Homo sapiens: one gene and its partner. The protein of the gene in region 1 interacts with the protein of each later gene in a biochemical or structural test. Each region holds a gene or a part of one and is shown in the gene's direction. Other genes may lie near its edges. The genes, in order: NFU1 and EPM2A.

Region 1 (11,372 bases):
AACCTCTCATTTCCTTTCCATCGTAGAAATCTATCCTCAAGGAAATCACTTCTCAGTGTTCCATCTGCTATTCTACTACTCTTCAGGGATTACTCAGGCCTACATATCAAGCTCGGGGCCACCCAGGACTGGAAAATTGACTTTACTCACATGCCTCAGTGAGGAAACTAAAATACCTCTTGGTCTGGGTAGACACTTTCACTGGGTGGGTAGAGGCCTTTCCCACAGGGTCTGAGAAGGCCACCGCAGTCATTTCTTCCCTTCTGTCAGACATAATTCCTCGGTTTGGCCTTCTCACCTCTATGCAGTCCGATAACGGACTGGCCTTTATTAGTCAAATCACCCAAGCAGTTTTTCAGGCTCTTGGTATTCAGTGAAATCTTTATATCCCTTACCGTCCTCAGTCTTCAGGAAGGGTAGAATGGACTAATGGTCTTTTAAAAACACAACTCACCAAGCTCAGCCACCAACTTAAAAAGGACTGGACAATACTTTTATCACTTGCCTTTCTCAGAATTTGGGCCTGTCCTTGGAATGCTACAGGGTACAGCCCATTTGAGCTCCTGTATAGACGTTCCTTTTTATTAGGCCCCAGTCTCATTCCAGACACCATACCAACTTGGACTGTACCCCAAAAAACTTGTCATCCCTACTATCTTCTGTCTGGTCATACTCATATTCACCATTCTCAACTACACATAAATGCCCTGCTCTTGTTTACAGTGCCGGTTTACACTGTTTCTCCAAGCCATCACAGCTGATATCTCCTGGTGCTATCTCCAAACCGCCACTCTTAACTCCTTCTTAAAGTAAATAAATAATCTTTGCTGGCAGGGCTATGCTGAACCTCCTTGGGCACTCTCTAATTAGATGTACTGGGTCCTCCCAATTCTTAGTCCTTTAATACCTGTTTTTCTCCTTCTCTTATTCCTTTTAGTTTTTTAATTCATGCAAAACCATATCCAGGCCATCACCAATACTTCTATACAACAAATGTTTCTTCTAACAACCCCACAATATCACCCCTTACCACAAAATCTTCCTTCAGCTTAATCTCTCCCACTCTAGATTCCCACGCTGCCCCTAATCCCGCTTGAAGCAGCCCTGAGAAACATCACCCATTCTCTCTCCATACCACCCCCCAAAATTTTCACCGCCCCAACACTTTACCACTATTTTGTTTTATTTTTCTTATTAATATAAAAAGACAGGAATGTCAGACCTCTGAGCCCAAGCTAAGCCATCATATCCCCTGTGACCTGCACATACATCCAGATGGCCTGAAGTAACTGAAGAATCATAAAAGAAGTGAAAATGGCCTGTTCCTGCCTTAACTGATGACATTACCTTGTGAAATTCCTTCTCCTGGCTCATCCTGGATCAAAAGCTCCCACACTGAGCACCTTGTGACCCCTACCCCTGCCAGCTAGAAAACAACCCCCTTTGACTGTAATTTTCCTTTACCTACCCAAATCCTATAAAATGGCCCCACCCCTATCTCCCTTTGCTGACTCTCTTTTCAGACTCAGCCCATCTGCACCCAGGTGAAATAAACAGCCCTGTTGCTCACACAAAACCTGTTGGGTGGTCTCTTCACACGGATGCGAGTGAAACAGGTACACTATAGTTTTCTTCTGAAACGTAATTTTTCTTTTTCTAGTTTCCCATTTTTATCAAGGATAAATCATAGTAGGACCAATTTATTTACAAAATAAGTTTTAGTCTTATTGTACTTGGCCTGATTATTTGCATACAATGCTGTAAGCGTAGTGATTGACCATAGAGGCTCCTTTTAAATTGGCTTTGTGGGAACCATTTCATAAGGAATAGCAGATTTGACTTTTTAAAAGCCTCTTGAGGTTATCCAAGCCAAGGATTTATGTATGCCTGTAGATACCTGTATGAATTGGGGGTGAATTCCACTTTTCTTGAGGTTCCAAAGTAACTTGAGTTTCCTGGGCCTGTCAGAAAGTGACAATCTTTACTTATTACAGGTCAGGAACTTTGTAAAAGAATTGGATAGACATGGTACCAGGCCAGTCTTTCCAAAGGGCTTTTTATTGGCTCTATAAAGTCAATGTCAATTCCTCAAAGCAGTCGGAGTACATCTGAAAAAAATGCTATTCCAGTCAAAGCCTTGATAAAATAACCAGTGTCTCAAATTTTGTCCTGTTACAAAAGAAAACAGATTCTTACTGAATTTATGCAAATAACTATACTGCTATATATTAAGAATACTCACAAATAGGCCGGGTGTGGTGGCTCACACCTGTAATCCCAACACTTTGGGAGACTGAGGCAGGAGGACTGCTTGAGCTCAGGAGTTTGAGAGCAGCCTGGGCAACATAGTGAGACCCTGTCTCTGCAAAAAATAAACAAAATTAGCTGAGTGTGGTGTTGGGCACCTGTAGTCACAGTTACTTGCTTGGGAGGCTGAGGTGGAAGGATCAGTTTAGCCTGGGAAGTTGAGGCTGCAGTGAGCTGAGATTGCACCACTGCAATCCTGCCTGGGCAACAGAGTGAGACCTTGTCTCAAAAAAAAAAAAAAAAAAAAAAAAAAAAAAAGAATCTCACAAATAGTTTCCAAATTCTGGGGAAATTTAGAGAGAAAGAATATGCTTCAAATTTTGATCAGAAAGGTATATTTTACCCAACTTGTTGTAAGCTATAAATAGCTCAACAGAAAAAAGTTTTCTTGACTCTGTAAAAACAAAACAAAAATTATCAGCAATGTTTCAAACAAAAAACAGTCATTAAAAATTACTTCACACACATACAAAAATTACTTTAATATTCTATTGGTTTAGTCCCATTAATTAACTCTTGTTCTTTTTGATGTTGGGTTAGCAATCCTCATGAATACATCAGCTTTTTAATTAGAGTCCTGGAAAGCATTTTCATAGTCCAATGCTATGATCTCCAAAGTTATCGGAAACTTGTATTCAAGAGTATTTGTTAGAGTCCTTTCCATGAATTTCCTTAAAGAAGAAAATTTTGGACTGCAGCTGATTATAAACTACTTTTTGAGAAGAATCAAAATAAAACAACAATTGTCTGTGGATGACAAAACTCTTAGAACAGCCATGGTTAACCTAATGCTAGATGACGAGTTAGTGGGTGCAGCACACCAGCATGGCACATGTATACATATGTAACTAACCTGCACATTGTGCACATGTACCCTAAAACTTAAAGTATTAAAAAAAAAAAAAAAAGAACAGCCATGGTTAAAGACACAATTGACAAGGAAATTTGGTTATTTCTGTGGCACACAACGATGTAACATAATAATCATAATTATTACTGATGTCATATACTAAGACATACCAGAATTACAGGAATCTCACACAATTTTGAAACACACATTAATAACTCATTCATATAAATATAACCCAAAGAAAGTTAAACACCATTTCACATTTGACAATGCTTCCTCTCCCCCACATAGCGTTCTATTCCCTTAGTGCCTTTGTTGATTTACAAATCTTCTCCAGGAGCTCCCTGAGACCAGGAATTGTTTTGTTCATCTTAATATTACTCCACACAGGATTTTGATCATCTGTGAGTAACAGGAAACCTAATTAAACAGTACTGTAGGCAAATATTGACCTAAAAGAAAGAAGCTGAGGCAAAATTAATATAGAGAATTTATTTGGGCCAAGGTTGAGGACTGTAGCCCTGGCCATATTGCAGGTTGCCTTGGAGAGTGCTCTGGGAAAAAAGGAGAGGCTCAACTTTTTAAAGAAAAAGAGACAAATCAGGGGAGAGGAACAATTACAAAAGTTGCTCATCAGGTATTCTCATTTGACTTTTTTTTTTTCTTGAGACAGGGTCTCATGCTGTCACCCAGGCTGGAGTGCAGTGGTGCAATCACGGCTCATTGCAGCCTCAACTTCCCAGGCTCAGGTGATTCTCTCATCTCAGCCTCCCAAATAGCTGGCACTACAGGCATATGCCATGACATCTGGCTAATTTTTTGTGGAGACATGGTTTGTTTGTAGAGACTCCCAAGTGCTGGGATTAGAGGCGTGAGCCACAGCACCCGGCCCTGATACTTTTCTTTTTTAGGCTAGTCAATGGGCCTCATAATTTAAAGGGGCTCACCTTCCTCAGATAACATGTTTTTATTCTGCCAGGGTTAGTGGCTCATGCTTGTAAACCCTCCATGTTTCCCAGCATGGTCTCAAACTCCTGGGCTCAAGCAATTTGCCCACCTTGGCCTCCCAGAGTGTTGGGATTACAGGTGTGAGCCACCATGCTCAGCAGGTATTCTCATTGGTTTACAGAAATAACATTGTTAGTGACTGGCCATGCACTGTTGAACTATAGGGTATATGGCATGTTAACGGCTTCTTGACATTAGTCTAGTGTATACATAGCAAGTGACTTCAAGAAGTTGTTACTTAGCTCAAGGGCGAATGAGATATTACTGCTGCTACATTTTAAATGCCTCTCTGGGCCTGATACTTTTTCTAGTGCAGGCTTGTGGTGCAGGACTGGCAGGCAGCTCTGCTCATGGCCCTGGCATGGGATCCACTAGGCGAAGCCAGCTGGGCTCCTGAGTCAGGTGGGGACTTGGAGAACTTTTATGTCTAGCCAGAGGATTGTATATGTATCAATCAGCACTCTGTGTCTAGCTTGGGGTTTATGGATGCACCAATCAGCACTCTGTATCTAGCTAATCTGGTGGGAACTTGGAGAACTTTTATGTCTGGCTAAAGGATTGTAAATACACCAATCAGCACCCTGTGTCTAGCTCAAGGTTTGTAAATGCACCAATCAGTGCTCTGTGTCTAGCTAACCTAGTGGGGACTTGGAGAACTTTTACTCTAGCTAGAGGATTGTAAATACACCAATCAGCACTCTATGTCTAGCTCAGGGATTGTAAACGCACCAATCAGCACCCTGTCAAAACGGACCAATCAGCTCTCTGTAAAACAAACCAATCAGTACTCTGTAAAATGGACCAATCAGCTCTCTGTAAAATGGGCCAATCAGCAGGATGTGGGTGGGGTCAGATAAGGGAATAAAAGCAGGGTGCCTGAGGCAGCAGTGGCAACCTGCTTGGGTCCCCTTCCATGTTATGAAAGCTTTGTTCTTTTGCTCTTTGTAGTAAATCTTGATGTGGCTCACTCTTTGGGCCCGTGCTGTCTTTATGAACTGTAACACCCATCGCAAAGGTCTGCAGCTTCACTCCTGAAGTCAGTGAGACCACGAACCCACCAGAAGAAACAAACTCCGGACACATCTGACCATCTGAAGGAACAGACTCTGGACACACCATCTTTAAGAACTGTAACACTCACCACAAGGGTCCATGGCTTCATTCTTGAAGTTAGCGAGACCAAGAACCCACCAATTCCGGACACAGTAGCACAGAGGCTGTGGGTGGTTTGACTAGAGCAGGCCCTAAGAATGGTGGGACATAGAAGCCTCGTTTCAGGGGTTTGAGGAGTGGGAAGTGAAAAACTAGAGACTAAGAGTGCAGACCATTTTTTTAAGCCACTTGGTTCTGAAGGGAAGAAAAGAGTGTGGAAGAGGATTTGGGGCAAGGCAGGATTTTTCTTATGATAAGGAATCCATCAGAGAGGGAAAAATTGAAGTCTGAGAAGAACGATTGTTCCAAGGTGGAAGAGCCACATTTTATTTTTGATTGAGGGTCAAAAACAGAGCCTTGGACTGCCTTGCGGTCTAGAATGGGTGTGTGTGGGGGGGTGGGTGGGGGGTTGGATGGGGGAAGATCACTGGGTGGGGGGTTGGATGGGGGAAGATCACTAGTAGTTAAAAGCAAGTACGCAGCATTGGGAATGAACCAAACTCGTAGGAGGCACAGCCCACTCAGTGTGCGGGCCCGGGCGAGCTGCAGGCCTGAAACCCACCCACCCTCTTAGATGTGTCTGTGGGCCATAGAAATTACTAGGGTTGTCTTGGGTGTGGCCTCAACCTGTTCAACAACAGGTGTGCTGTTTCCATTCTGGAAACCAGTCCTCTGTCTTCCAGAACAGTGATTCTCAAATTTTAGCTGGCATCAGAATCCTGGGAAGGGTTTGTTAAAACACTACTAGGCAGGGTGAGGTAACCTAAGAGCTTTTGGAGGCCCAGGTGAGAGGGATCACTTGAGGCCAGCAGAGTTCAAGAGCAGCCCAGGCAACACAGGGAGACCTCTTCTCTACAAAAATACTACTACTACTACTGCTAATAAAAGCCAGGCACCGTGGCTCACACCTGTAATCCCAGTGCTTTGGGAGGCTGAGGCTGGAGGATGAATCACTTGAGCCCAGGAGTTGGTTTTGGTGAGCTATGATCGCACTCCTGCTCTCCAGCCTGGGCAACAGAGATAGACCCTGTCTCTGGAAAAAGAAAAAAAAAAAAAGCAAGTAACAAAGATTTCTAGTCCCCACCTACAGAGATTGTGCCTCAGTAAGTATAAAGTGGGGCCCAGGATTTCTAACATGTTCTAACGTGCATTTCTAACGTGTTCTCCTGCTTTTTTTTGGCCCCTAGTCCGCACTTTGAGAACCGTTGTCCTAGAGAAAACGGAATACTCCAGGAAGGTTCTGGAAGAATAGGTAATGGGCTTTGGCACTCTGCCCTGGAAACTAGTCAAGTCTCATGTTAATCGGAGAAGGGCAGCACTGTACCAGATACATCCTCTGTGCGGGTTGGTCCAAGATGACCAAGTGGCAGCTGACAAGCACAGCTATGAGGAAGGGTTAGACACAGTTCCACATCAGACCCATGGGAAAAGGGCAGGAGAAATGCGAGAACCTTTTAGAAGGAATGCTCCAGGGAGTCTTTGGGGGCAGTCACTGAGCTGGGCCTGGAGGCTGAGTAGGGTCCTAGAGGAGGGAATGGGTCAGGTTTAGGGGCTGGAAACAGCATTCGCAAGGCAGCACCAGCACCAGCTAAAAACCTAGCCAACAGGGAAAACAAAGTACGGAAACACGCATGCGTTCACAGTGCTGCGTGAATTAACCAAGCGTTGGCGCAAACGGGAAAGGTTCCCCGGCCTCTCTTGGTCAGGGTGACGCAGTAGCCTGCAAACCTCGGCGCGTAGGCCACCGCACTTATCCGCAGCAGGACCGCCCGCAGCCGGTAGGGTGGGCTCTTCCCAGTGCCCGCCCAGCTACCGGCCAGCCTGCGGCTGCGCAGATCTTTCGTGGTTCTGTCAGGGAGACCCTTAGGCACTCCGGACTAAGATGGCGGCGACGGCCAGGCGGGGCTGGGGAGCTGCGGCTGTTGCCGCCGGGCTGCGCAGGCGGTAGGTGACGAGCCTGGAGCTCCGAATAGGTGTGCCGCTGGGCTTAGCCAGCGGAGCGGTCGCCGCCTTGCAGACCCTCTCTCGAGGCGGGTGGGTAGTGCATCTGATGGAGCCGGCGGGTCCGCCCTGTCGCCGTAGTTGGGGGTGAGCCCTGAGGCTGTCTGTGCGGGAGCTCGGCGCTTCTGTGGCCTAATCCGGGCGGACTCTCTGGAGCTTCCTCTCAGGCTCAGAGACCCAGTTCTTGAGTCTCTGCGGTACGGAAGCTTGTAGAGACTGGCTGTAGAGCCAGAACGGAGGAGCTGTTTTAAAATCGTGTGCCTCTCCCGCCCCCAGGCCCTCTACCGGGTGCATTCCCTCCTCTTCTAAACGCAGAATCAGAATGTCACACAGAAGGGAAGAAAATACCTTGTCTCGTTTCCTCATTTTCCCAGTAAGGCCCTGAAAGAGGAGGTGACATGTCCAAGGTTACACAGTTTCTAAGTGATGGAATTCCGACGAGAACCAGGACCCCTAGATTCCCTGCACCCACCACCATTAAGCCCACTCTGTTCCCTTGTTTTTTCCGCCTCCCTGAGCCCTACCTTTGAGTTTCACCTTTCAAAGACTTCTGTGAACATTGCTAAGAGGACATTTATGTAGGTGTACCTTAATTTTACGTCTGGAGAAAATGGCCTACGGAGAGTTTGCCCTCTAGAGTATTAGACATTGTAGTGTTAATGGTGCTCTTGAAGTTTAAATGTATATCCTAAAAAGATTTAAGTTGGTAGAATTTTTTGTTAGTTACCTCCTGTGTTTGAGTAGATGTCTTCCTTGAATAATGTAATCCACTCTTACTTTAAAAAAACAAGACTTTAAACCTGTATGTTGGAATGTGCTTCCTCTTTATTCATTCTGCTGCCTTTTCCCTGGGCTGAAGGGACGAGAATATTATTCTTCTAGTGCATTTCCAAATTCCAGAGTATTCACAGATTTAGATACTGAGCTATAGAAAAAGGCATTTTTACCCCAAACCTTGAACTGCACTCAATTAGTAATTATTGGGCACCAATTAAATAATGGTAGCAGCTGCCATTTATTGAGCACTTACTGCATGGCCTGGCACTGGTTTAAGCACTTTACATGGATTCTCTGGATTATTTATGAGGTAGCTGTGAAACTAATCTCATTGTAGAGATGAAGAACTGAGGCCATTGTGCTAGCAGCTAGAAATGAAGATAGTTTCTCCCCTTAATGAGTATGCAGTCTAGCAAGAAAAATATATTAACAAATAATGACAGTCATGAGTGCTGTAATAGATTCATGTAATTTAAAGTGGTGTGCCGGGCGTGGTGGCTCACGCCTGTAATCCCAGCACTTTGAGAGGTCAAGCTGGGCGGATTGGCTGAGGTCAGGAGTTCGAGACCAGTCTGGCCAACATGGTGAAACTAAAAAAAAAAAAAAAAAAGCTGGGCGTGGTGGTGTGTGCCTGTAATCCCAGCGAGTTGGGAGGCTGAGGCAGGGGAATTGCTTGAACCAGGGAGGTGGAGGTTGCAGTGAGCCAAGATCACGCCACTGCACTTCAGCCTGGGTGACAGAGTGAGAAAAGCGAGATTATTTCCATCTCAAAATAAAGTGGTGACAGCTCTTACTGTGATCAACACTGGAGCTAGTGTGGGGAGTGGCAGTCAGGACTTCACAGATTATTTGATTCCCATTCAGTGTTGATTCCATTGTTCTCTTGAATCCTCGGTGCCAATCCTTTTATCTCTCCAATAGCATCTAAGAAACTCTATGGGTTACAGTCCCACAGTATCCCAGTAGTCTTTTGCTTATCAATGGCATATAAAGATTATTGAAGGTAGTAAACAGTTCATCTGTATTTTGTTAATACTTAATTGGTGCCCACTCTTTCTTTTCCACGAGAAGAATTCCAGTTTTGTGAGAGAGAGAAAAAAATGTGGCAGCCGCTGTTGCTTCTTGCCTATTTTAAGCAGAAGATAATTAGATAAATGTGATCTTGTGTATGATCACAAACAATTTTGGCCTTTGGAAAAAATTTTAACAGAAAATTATGACAGTGAAAGACCGTTCTAACTGACCATCATTTTGCCTTTAACCTCTAGACTGCCCATTCCCGGGCTTGGGCCAAGCTAACTTTGGGAGACATTTAGTTTATAGTTTAAATGATAATAGCCCTTTCCCAAAATTAAACCACCTTTATAAAGCTAATGAAAGACCACCAGGTTTGGAGGATGAGAGGAGCCTGAATTCTGCTAAGGTGTAGATGTAAATGATTACCAGCCATTATTCTGGCGGTCCTAAGAGTTGCAACTTCCCCAATTACTCCTGCAGAAAACATCTCTCTTGTAGAACCTAAGATTAGCCTTTTCAGGTTTTTGCATTTCTGACTGGTCCTGTGGCCCCGCCCACAAACGGGCTGAGCACTCAGGAGGATCATTTTCCGCACCCCTATGATTGCATCCCCAACCAGTCAGCAACACCCGTTCCCTGGCCTGCCAGTCTATCCTTGAAAACCCCTAGCCTCAGATCCAGAGAGACTGAGTACTAAAACTCCACTCTCCCTTTCAGCTGGCTCCATGTGAATTAAACTCTTTATTGCAAATCCCCTGTCTTGATGAATTAGCAGTATCTGGACAGTGGGCAAAGTGAACCCATTGGCAATTATAAATGACTCCTGTACTTAAAATTTTTCTATGGCTCCTATGAAGTGGCAGTGGTAATGGATAGCGATGATATTTTCAAGTAAACCGGATTTTAAAGTAAATTGCATTGGGATTTTAAGAATTTTTACTATTAAAGTCTCCTTTTACTTCCTTTTCCAGTAATATTTGCTTTCATTTTCTTCCTTTGTTTTCAGTTTGTCAAAGCCATAAAAAATAGCCAATTAAGTTTTCTCTGTAAGAGTGAAGTAAAGTTAGAGGCCTGGCGCTGTGGCTCACGCCTGTAATCCCAGCACTTTGGGAGGCCGAGGCTAGTGGATCATGAGGTCAGGAGTTCAAGACCAGCCTGGCCAAGATGGTGAAACCCTGTCTCTACTAAAAATACAAAAATTAGCCGGGCATGGTGGTGGGCATCTATAATCCCAGCTACTTGGGAGGCTGAGGCGGAGAATTGCTTGAACCCAGGAGGCGGAGGTTGCAGTGAGCCAAGATCGCACCACTGCACTCCATCCTGGGCGACAGAGCAAGACTCCGTCTCACAAAAAAAAAAAGAAAAAAAAAAGTGAAGTGAAGTTACAACACTGGGTTAATATGTTTCCATCCAAAAAGCATATAAAAGGCAGGGCATGGTGGCTCACGCCTATAATCCCAGCACTTTGGGAGGCCAAAGTGGGAGGATTACTTGAGCCAGGAGCTGGAGATCAGCCTGAGCAACATAGTGGTAATCCATCTCTACCAGAAGTAAAAAAAAAAAAAAAAACTAGCTGGGCATGGTGGCATACAGCTGTAGTGTCACCTACTTGGGAGGCTGAGGTGGGAGAATCACTTGAGCCTAGGATGTTGAGGCTGCAGTGAGCCCTGATCACACCATTGTACTCCAGCATGGGTGACAGAACAAGACCCTGTCTCAAAACAAAACACGAAAAGCGTGATCAAGATCGTTGGCTGTGTAATCCCAGCATTTTGGGAGGCCAAGGCAGGTGGATCACTTTAGGTCAGGAGTTGGAGATCAGCCTGGCCAACGTGGTGAAACCCTGTCTCTACTAAAAATATAAAAATTAGCCGGGTGTGATGGTGTACACCTGTAATCCCAGCTACTAGGGAGGCTGAGGCAAGAGAATCACTTGAACCCAGGAGGTGGAGGTTGCAGTAAGCTGGGATCGCATCACTGCACTCCAGCGTGGGCGACAAAGTGAGACTCAGTCTCAAAAAAAAAAGACGGGCCAGGTGTGGTGTCTCATGCCTGTAATCTCAGCACTTTGGGAGGCCGATACGGGAGGATCACCTGAGGTCAAGAGTTCGAGACCATCCTGGCCAACATGGTGAAACCCTGTCTCTACTAAAAAGTACAAAAATTAGCCAGGCATGGTGGCGGGCACCTGTAATCTCAGCTACTCGGGAGGCTGAGGCAGCAGAATTGCTGGCACCTGGGAGATGGAGGTTGCAGTGAG
Region 2 (10,805 bases), on another chromosome or scaffold:
ATAGACCAATGGAACAGAATAGAGAGCCCAGAAATAATGCCAGACACCTAAAACCATCTGATTTGACAAAGTTAACAAAAATAAGCAATGGGGAAAGGACCCTATTCAATAAATAGTGCTGGGATAACTGGCTAGCCATATGCAGAAGATTGAAACTGGACCCCTTCCATATACCATATACAAAAATTAACACAAAACAGATTAAAAACCTAAATATAAAACCTAAAACTATTTATTATTGATTTCTAGTTCAATTCTGTTAATGTCAGAAAACACAATTTGTATGATTTAAATTTTCTAAAAATTTGAAGTTGTTTTATGGTACAGGATATGTTCTATCTTGGTTTATGTACTGTTGAACATGTGCATTCTGCTATATTGGGTGCTGTATAAATGTCAACTAGATAATGTTGGTTGATGGTGTTCTTGAGGTTTCTAATATCCTTGCTGATTTTCTGTCTAATTGTTCTAACAATTGTTTTGGGTGAGGTGTTGAGGTCTTAAACTATAATTCTGGAGTTTTAAAATTCTTTCAGTTCTCTCAGTTTTTTGCTTTACGTATTTAACCACCTTACTGTTTGATATATACACAGTTAAAGTTGCTGTGTCTTCTTGTTAGATTGATACTTTAAACATTGTATAATTTCCCCTCTCTAGTAATTTTCTTTTCTCTGAAGTATACTTTATATAATAGTAATATAACTACTCCTGCTTTTTGATTAATGTTTGCATAGTATATCTTTTTCTATGCTTTTACTTCCCACCTGTGTATATAATTTGAAGTGAATTGCTTCTAGACAGCATATAATTGATTCACTTAAAAATTATTCTGCCAACTTTTGTATTTTCATTGGTGTATTTAGACTATTTAACATAATTATTGGTATGTTAGAGCCTAAGTTTGCCATTTTATTTTTTGTTTCTGGTTGTTTTCTCTTCCTCCTTTTTCTCTGATTGTGTGGCATGTCTGGTTCATAATTGAACATTTTTTTAGAATTCTGTTTTGATTTACACATAGAATTTCTATATACATTATGTATATTATATACCTAACATCATAGTTGACTGGTATCAACCTTTTACGAGTTTGAGTGAATTTTAGAAAACTTACCTCCTTTTTCATTCGTTTGTCCTTCCTCATTTGCAATATAATTGCCTTAAATATTTCCTTTACATACATGTAGAATAGCATCAGACAATGTTAGAATGTTTGCTTATTTACTTATAATTTTGTTTACTGTGCTCATTCTTCCTGTTTTCAAAGAGTTTCTTTTTGTTTAGACATCTTCTGTTAGTCATTTTTAAGATAATTCAGCGGCAAAATTTTCTTAGTTTTCCTTCATAAGCATGTTTTGATTTTCCCTTTTTTTCCTGAAGGAAATAGTCACAAAGTAAGATTCTTGGTTGACAGTTGTTCTTTTTTACAGCACTTGAAAAATGACACTTCCTTTGGTGACTTCTGATGAGAAATCTGCTCATATTAGAATATTTTTTCCTTTACATTGCTGTTTTTCTCTGGCTACTTTTATGATTTTCTCTGTTGTTAGTTTTCAGAAGTTTAAATATGTCATGTCTCGGTATTGATTTCTTTGGGTTTATGTTGTTTGGACTTTGCTCACCTGCTTGAATTTGTAGGTTTTGCCTCTTGCCAAATTTGAAAAGTTTTCCGGCATTATTTTCTTAAGTACTTTTAAGCCCTACTATCTTTTCCCTCTTCTTCCAAGACTCCAATGACATAAATTTAGATCTTCTGTTAATAGTACCACAAGTCCCTAAGTGTCTGTTTTTTTTTTTTTTAATTCAGCCTACTTTTCTGTTGTTTGCTGTTTAGATTGGGTAATTTCCATGATTCTATCTTGAAGTCTGTGAATTCTTTCCTCTGTCCCTTCCATATTGCTCTTAAACCCATCTATTGAGTTTTGAAAATTTCAAATATTGTGTTTTTCAGTTCTAAAATTAATATTTAGTTCCTCTTTTCATCTTCCATTCCATTGCTGAGACATTCCGATTCTTCATTTGTTTGAAATGTGTTCTAATGGGTTACTGAGGCCTTAAAATCTTTATCACATAATTATCACATAATTCTAACATCATTGTTCTCTTGGTGTTGGCCTTTATCCGGCATCTTTTTTTTTTTCCATTTAGTTTGAGATCTTAGTGGTTATTGGTATAATGGGTAACATTCTATTGAAACCTAGACATTTTGGGTATTATGTAATGAGGTTAGCTCTTTTTTTTTTTTTTTTTTTTTTCTTTTGAGACGGAGTCTCGCTCTGTCGCCCAGGCCGGACTGCGGACTGCAGTGGCGCAATCTCGGCTCACTGCAAGCTCCGCTTCCCGGGTTCACGCCATTCTCCTGCCTCAGCCTCCCGAGTAGCTGGGACTACAGGCGCCCGCCACCGCACCCGGCTAATTTTTTGTATTTTTAGTAGAGACGGGGTTTCACCTTGTTAGCCAGGATGGTCTCGATCTCCTGACCTCATGATCCACCCGCCTCGGCCTCCCAAAGTGCTGGGATTACAGGCGTGAGCCACCGTGCCCGGCCTGAGGTTAGCTCTTATGCAAACCTTTGATTTTAACTGAATTCTTCTGACACCACTCCAGCAGAAGAATGGAGGTCCCACCTTATTACCCAGGTTCCTCACACTGTTTCCATTCATAACCAAACCAAACAGACTCCTCCCTGAGTGGGGTGGTAGTTCTAACTCTCCATTAGGCCTCCATTGATAGCTCCCTGGCTGAGACAGGGAGGAATGCCTTGTTACTGCTTCCTACATGGCATCCACTGATGGTCGGGTGGGAAGGAGGTGGAAATCTTGACTTTCCACTAGGTCACCTTTGTCACGATCTCAGTGGAAAGAAGGGGCACCTCGTTACTGCCAAATGGAGGTGGAAGTCCACCTTTCCACTTGGACTCCACTATATTGCCAACGATGATGCTGAAAGTTTCAGACCCCTACTCATCCTTCTCTGACACCATGATAGTGAGTGGGTTGAGGCACTGCAATACAGCTTGGCAAACAAAAGTGGAAGTGTACCCATGCTTGGCCTTTGCTGGCCTGAGTGGGTGTGGGGCCACATTTTTTCAGTGGGTTTGACTGGAGTAGTGTAGTTATTATCAAACAGATTTCTGTCTGGCTAGGCTTGTCTTTTCATTTGGCTAGAGAGAATGGACTTTTGTCATGTTTTCTTTTTCTGTCCTTGTGTTACCAGGTTGCTGGCTTCTTCAGATCTAAGTCTGGGATATATAAGGCAAAAAGAAAATGCAGGGAACTCAATACTTAGGTCTTTTCTTAGGTCTCAGTGTCCCTGGATAGTCTGTCTTCTTCTCTTTGTCTTTCAAAGTTATCTTATGTTTGTTTATTTATAATTTTCAGGGTTTTAAATTATACTTAGTGGGAGGACTAGGGAAAAGTACATTTATTCCATAGTTCTCCATGCAGAAATCTCCAAAACCAAAATTATTTTACTATTCATTTTTGCCATTTCATTAGGTGAAATTAAAAAGACAATAACCCATCCTCTAAAAGACATTTTAATTATTAGAACATATTTTGAATAACTCAGTTTACTATCCATGAAAGACTTTTAAAAATGTTGCCTAAAACATAAATGTGTAAAAATGAGTAATTAAAGAAATCACTCTAGGAATGAAGAATTCTTATGAAGATGATGACACATAAATAATTCTTCTTGACCATTGTAATTTATGAATATTTGATCTCTTCAACAATTATATTTTTAATAGGTAATAATTCAATTGTTGTAAGTCAATTATACTGACCAATGGGAGCCACAGATATTGTTTTATTTAACTAAAAAAGTAACACCCGCTCCTTGTAACTAATCCAATCAATTCAAAACAGTTGACTATGACAGTTCCCCTCCATCCAATTCCATTTCCTAGAAGTAACCATATCCAGTTTGTAGTCTATGTTTACACTTTCAGTCATGCTCTGCTGCTTCACTTAGTCACTCCTACTTTTCCTTTTCAGCTCCTCTATTCATCTTTTGTAAGTTTATCCTTCTCTCGCTGGCTGTTAAACATTGAAAAACTTTCAGACTTTGTTCTAGAACTTTTTTCCTTATTAATATTGTTTTTCTTTGTGACTCATCTATGTTCCTATTTCAATTACCATTTACACTCAAATTACTCATATATTTATTTTTTTAGTTCAGATTTCTGGTCTTAATGTCAAATGAGTAACTCCAGCTCTCTTTTGAGGACTCCTTTTGGATATCTAAAGAGCACTCCAAACCCAACATTGCCAGAACTAGATAGATGATCTTTCCTTACAGCCTCTTTCAGATTTTGCATCTCAGTGAATAGTGCCACTGTATATTGAATTATTTTCACTAGAAGCTTAAGAGGCATTGTTAATCCCCTTTCATCTTCACCTTCCTTTTCCAATTAATCACCAAGTCCTGTGGCCTTTCCCTCTTGAATCTGCATAATCCTTTCAAAGTCTGTGACCAAGCTTCATCATAAACTACCTAGGCCAATATAGTAGTTTCTTAAATGGACTCTCTGCTTCTATCTGATTGTTCTTGAATTATTTTTTTACTCTGTAGCCAGAGAGGTATCCTTAAAATAAAATCTGGTTATGTTACATGCCTGCTTAGAATATTTCAAATTTTTAGTTGCTCTTATGATAAATATCTGAGTTCTTAACATGACCTAGCACAGTACCTGTCTCAATAAATATCTGTAGAAGAATGAAAAAAAACTTATATGGTTTACAGTATTTTCTATTAAAATAGTATTACTGTACGCATGTATCTCTGTGTGCATCAGAAATTCTTTTTTCTTAGTAATATTTCTGTTGGATATGTTTCTAGAAGTGAGGTTGCTAGTGTAGTTTGGTTTTTATCTATTAAAAATGAAGGTTAATAGAGATGTGGTGCAGCACCTTGTAGTCGTCGAGAAAAAAAATCCATTAAGAGAAAAAAGAGGAGACTGATCTAGGAAGATCAGTAATGGTTTATTAAGAGAGTCATCCTGTACCTTCTGTCTGATGGAAGGAGTTATATCTCAAAGAAACATCAAATAATTTAAGGATTTTTTGAGAGCTTACGCCAAGCAAATTTAGGTTAAATATTTTGTAAGACAGAACAAAGAGAAAAGAACAAATGAATCACATTTTTGTATTCATAACAAATGTGATTTATTTCTGTAAACCACTCATGCATTTAGTTTGCTTACATGTCTTTCTTACAGTACATTATACTTAGGTAGTATAAAGAGAGGCATGATTTGAAATGGGATGATAAAAAGGTAGTAAAAATAATGTATGAATTATAATTTTTGTAGAAATCAAGGTTTACTAGTATGTAAGACCATTTGAGCTGCTATAAACAAAACACCATATATTGGTTAGCTTATGAACAATAGAAATTTATTGCTTACAATTCTGGAGGCTGGGGGGTCTAAGATTGAGGCATACCAGATTCAGTGATTGGTGAGGGCTCACTTACTGGTTCATAGATGGCGACGACTTGCTGTGTTCTCACATGGTGGAACAGAGCAAGGGGTTTCTTTCACCCCTCTTTTATAAGGGAGCTAATCACATTTGTGAGGGTTCTTCTTCATGACCTAATCATCTCCTAAAGGCCCCAGCTTCTAATACCAACACCTTGGGTGTTAGGATTTCAACATATAAATTTTGGGGGGACAAAAACATTCATACCATAGCAACTAGTGTAGTTGATACTGGGCAATCGTGAAATAGGCAAATAATATTTTTAGAGATGTGTGTCTGCTTCCTTTGATCCATGGCCCTGGAAGGAAGATGGTGTGTCTTTGTGCATGTGACATCAGCAGGGAGCATCACAAAGGCATCAGACGCCAGAAAGGTGGGGGACTAGGAGAGGCAGGTGCTACTAGCTCCGCACTACTAGTTTTGTGACCTTGGGCAAGCTAGTTAATCTCTGTGAGACTTGTTTTCCTCATTTGAAAACAATAATAATAACTGTTTTACCTGTAAAGTAGATTTGATGTGGTCATTTATTACTTATTAATGCATTTATTTATAATTATGCATTTTTTTGTTGAGCTGATACTACAACACTTTATTCCTGATTTTATTCGTAAATTTGCATACCAGAAAGATAGAAGTGTATAATACAGGGGCATTAATAGCTTTAAAAACTTTTTTTAGGAGCTTCTCAGGCTGCAAAGTGATTCATAATGGCCTCTTAGAGCACTGAGAGGTACCATGAAGCTCTGAAAGAGTTAACATGCTTTTTATAACCCATGTACTCAAAGGGAGTAAAAAACTCTGATTTTCCTAAGTAGCTCTTTACAAATTCCTACCGTTCTGTTTTTCACTCTAGTCTTTTTTGTTTATACTGAAATGTGTAGATTAAGTAGCTTTATGTTTATTTTTTTCTTGCTATTAATTTTGTATCAGCTGCTTTGAGGATATTTAAACAAAACACTGATTTAATTGCTCTGTTTATCATTTTTTCTTGTTCTAGGCAATGGACCTCATCATGACCGTTGCTGTACTTACAATGAAAACAACTTGGTGGATGGTGTGTATTGTCTCCCAATAGGACACTGGATTGAGGCCACTGGGCACACCAATGAAATGAAGCACACAACAGACTTCTATTTTAATATTGCAGGCCACCAAGCCATGCATTATTCAAGGTAAAAATAGTGCTATATTTATAGGCATAGAAGTAGGACAAGAGATAGCATTAGCACAATGGAAATATTTACTGTGTTCGAAACTGCAGTGCCTCACTTGGGAGGGGTCTATAGGCCTGTAGTACTTTGAGGAGAAAATTACAGTGAATCAGTGTGTGAGATTTTCTGGGTCTAGATGTGGAGGATTTTAAAAATAGAATTCTTTAATAAATGCATACCCTAGCATCAATATGTTTTGACCAGATAGTAGCTAACCAATCTGTGTACTTATGTAGTGGATTAAAAATAAGAACTACACTAAAATAGACTAAATTAATATTTGTGTCCTTTATGCTACTGACTACCAGTGAAACAAAAATTGGTATTTCCTTATACAATCTTATCCAAATAAATATGTGTGAAAATACAGGCACAGAACTAGATTGAATGTGATTATCTGCTTTATTATTTGTTAATATTTTGATTTATTTGTTCATTTAATTCCTAAACCAGGAGGTTGCTAAATAAAACATAAGGCTTATTATCCTTTTCTCCTTTCCCACTCATCAGAAGTGATTATTTTTAATCACTTTATGGTTAGTTTTTCTTGAGATTAAATCTAAACCTTAAACAATATGCATATGTGTTGCTTGTTAATGTACCAGTTTAAAAATAGCTATTGATTCCCCTCTATTACACATAAGAAATTGACATCTCTCATACTTGTCCTCTCTCCCCACTCCAGTCCCTACCAGGCATTTTTTGAGAAGTTCCATTGTTACTTACCATCATACAAATTCTATGTCTTGACCCATCAATTTTTCACAGTGTCTCCTAGTTTCCTACATTGTAAGAGTAGAGATTTTTTTTGTTCCTGTATTTTTTTCCACATCTATTTCCACCTACTAACTCCTGCTTTTAAATTACTTTTATAATTTCAAGGCTTATAGAATTTACATTAAACTTAGTAAATATAAATGTCTTTCACACTTCGATTATTTAAAATTTGAAAGCAATTGCCAACATTTAAAATATTATGTAAGTGTTATTTATTGTAGAACTTACAGTGTTTGTACCATACACAAGGAGATGCATTCTCATATTCTTAAAGAATGTGTTATTTTGAATGAGAGATACAATTAATATAAACCGAGTTGTGAGAGGTAAAAGAGAGAGAAAATGCAATTTCACAATAGTTTTAGGGAATTAATAGTCCTCTTGAACACATTTTTCTTTCAAACTTCTGGTAGATGTTGGCTTTGCTGATGGGTTGTATGCACAGAATGAGGAAGACAAGAGTTAAGCATGTCTCGTGGTTTTATGGCCTGAGCTACTGTAATGGTGTTGCCACTTACTGAGATGGGGAAGACTAGGAGATGAGCAATTTGAAGTAGGGATTGAGGTACAAGTTCTACTTTAGTCATTTTTTGAAATGTCTGTTAGATTACAGGAAGGAAATTGATTTGATGTCAGAAATTTTATGGAGAGCTTGGAAATAAAGATATAAAATTGGCAGTTATCAAGACATAGATAGCATTCAAAATGTTGAGTCTAGATGAGACAATAGTAAATGAGTGAAGTATAGAAGAGACAAAGAGAAGAAGCAAAAATATTGAGCCCTGGTTCACACAATTTAGAAGTCAAGGAGAAGCAGAAGATCCAGAGAAAGGAATGAGAAGCAACACTTCTTGAGATGGTCTGACATTTAATGAGGATATGTTTATGGGTTCTTTTAAATGATCCTGAACCACATTTCCTGAATGAACCCTTTTTTCTGAAGAGTCATATCTTGGGCTCTGGAGATTTTTTTCCACTGAATGATTATTTCTTCTCCTTGATTGCCTTTGCTCTTTGTCATTAGAGACACTCCTTAGATGGATGTTGGACCTCTTGGATTTACATTTTATATTTGTCATCTTTTTTATTGCTTTACATTTTGAGAGGCTTCTTTTTTTCCAATTCAACTATCGATTATTTTTTTCTTAATTTTGGTAATTGTATTCTTAATTTTCATGGACTTTTACTTATTCTGTTATTCACTTTTTGCATATTAGTTTGTTCTTGTTTATGAATGAGTATATTCATGAATCTTTCTTAGAATACTAATGAGAGTTATTTTTAAGTTCTCTTCTCTTACTGGAACTATACTTTTTCCTCCTGAATCAATTGTTTTTCATTCATTTTGATCTTTCTTTTTTGTGTTATTATTGTTTTAGGTAACATGATTATTAGTTGTTCATATTTACTATGTGAAAGATTAGGTTGATTGTTGTATATGGCTGTCATAATTTTCCTCTGCTATTACTGGCCTCTGTACCTGTGAGAGGTGTTGGGGGCAAGCTGTGCTCAGGTGGGCAGATCCTATCTTTCTCAGCAGACTCTGATCAGACAACCCACCTGCATACTTCCTCCGCCCCACCCTGAATGAAAAGACAGGCAGGGTCTGTTGTGGGGTACACCTCTCACTCTGAGAAAATTTGCTCTCTGAGTTGATGTTTTAATTTTTAAATAGAGTATTTCTTCAGCTTCACTTACAGTATCAAAGCTGTATGTGCAGGTGAGAGTGAACCTTAGTTCATATACTCAACTGTGCAAGAAAGCGTACGTTTCTTTATTTTCTTTAAAGCAACATAGTTTTACATCCAAGTCTCTATCCTACTGAATTCTCAGGTAATTCAACCTGTTATCCACTGCAAGGTGTAAATATATCTATGCTTATAAATAGTAATATATTAAAATGTATGTATACTATATAATACTTTATATATTAAAATAATAAATAATATATGTGTATGTATACCTGGAGTATAATATATAATCTAATATATACACACTCACACACACACACACACACACACACACACACACACACACCAAATCCTGGGAATCTTTATTTTTCAACATCTCCATGTGATTTTTACATGTGTGAAAGGACAGTAGTTTAGAATAGAAAAGGAATATTTTAATGCACCTTCAGTTGTTTCAGTCCAACTCCCCTTAAAAATTCCAGCATAATTCACCTTCACATGAAACTGGGTAAGATGAAAATCTGAATTCAGTTTAAAAGAAAAGAGTCAGAAAGGCATTTTATATTTCATTATTAAATTGAAAACATCGAATTCTATCTGTTTGCTATGTTCATCTGACAATGTATAATGCTAAGATTATTTGTGAATTTATCTTAGCTGCTGAAATAGATACAGACAGGTAGATTATATGTTTGAGCATTTATACAATGGAGGTATTCAAACTCAACTAAGAATTTGTAATTACAGACTCTCACTCTTTAGTTTGAATATAGGAATGGAATTATGCCTAGAATTTTTTTATGGTTGGGATAAATCATATCAGAATGGAATTGCCAATATCCTTTATAAGGATGAGGCTTTTTAGAACATATATATCTAAAAATTAAATGTTATATAATAAGATAAATGGTAACTTCATTTATTCAGTAAGAATTGTGTGGATTACTCTGTGCAGCCCATCTTGAGTGCTGGACCATCAATAATGGAGAGACATGATCCTTGCTCTCATGGAACTTATGCTGTAGTGGAAGACAACATGTAAACAGCTGCAATACAGTTAAATATTTGCTGTAATGAAGTTATATATGTAGTGTAAAAAGGGACAGGAAAAATCTTTAATTCAAGGAAATCTTTATGAGGACGTAGAACTTGAACAGAAATGTGAAGCCATCTTTTTCTCAGGACATTTGGGAAAGGGAATTCAAGGTAAGAAGAATAGCGATATGGTTTGGCTGTGTCCCGACCCAAATCTCGTCTTGCATTGTAGCTTCCACAATTCTCATGTGTTGTAGGAGAGACTAGTGGGAGGTAATTGAATCATGGGGGCGAGTCTTTCCCATACTGTTCTCGTGATAGTGAATAAGTCTCATGAGATCTGATGGTTTTATAAGGAGGAGTTTCCCTGCACATGCTCTCTCTTTGTCTGCTGCCATCCATGTAAGACGTGACTTGCTCTTCCTTGCCTTCAACCGTGATTGTGAGGCCTCCCGAGCCACGTGGAACTGTGAGTCCATTAAACCTCCTTCCTGTAAACGTTACCCAGTCTTGGGTATGTCTTTATTAGCAGAGTGAAAACGGACTAATGCAAATAGCAAGTGTACATATAGAGAGGTGTGAGAGAGCAATATTAGGGTAGCCACCTAATT

What was found.
Region 2: the proteins of NFU1 (region 1) and EPM2A form a complex in vitro, tested with the Homo sapiens proteins (one study listed by BioGRID).

Annotation. Positions count from the first base shown.
Region 1 is NC_000002.12:69,433,250-69,444,621, reverse strand, and holds the start of NFU1 (NFU1 iron-sulfur cluster scaffold homolog, mitochondrial), read left to right. Parts: upstream 1-7,186; 5' UTR 7,187-7,199; coding exon 7,200-7,261; exon of another isoform or gene 7,262-7,351; intron 7,352-11,372. UniProt on the Homo sapiens protein: Iron-sulfur cluster scaffold protein which can assemble [4Fe-4S] clusters and deliver them to target proteins.
Region 2 is NC_000006.12:145,681,969-145,692,773, reverse strand, and holds part of EPM2A (laforin), read left to right. Parts: intron 1-5,896; exon of another isoform or gene 5,897-5,930; intron 5,931-6,477; coding exon 6,478-6,652; intron 6,653-10,114; exon of another isoform or gene 10,115-10,365; intron 10,366-10,805. UniProt on the Homo sapiens protein: Plays an important role in preventing glycogen hyperphosphorylation and the formation of insoluble aggregates, via its activity as glycogen phosphatase, and by promoting the ubiquitination of proteins involved in glycogen metabolism via its interaction with the E3 ubiquitin ligase NHLRC1/malin.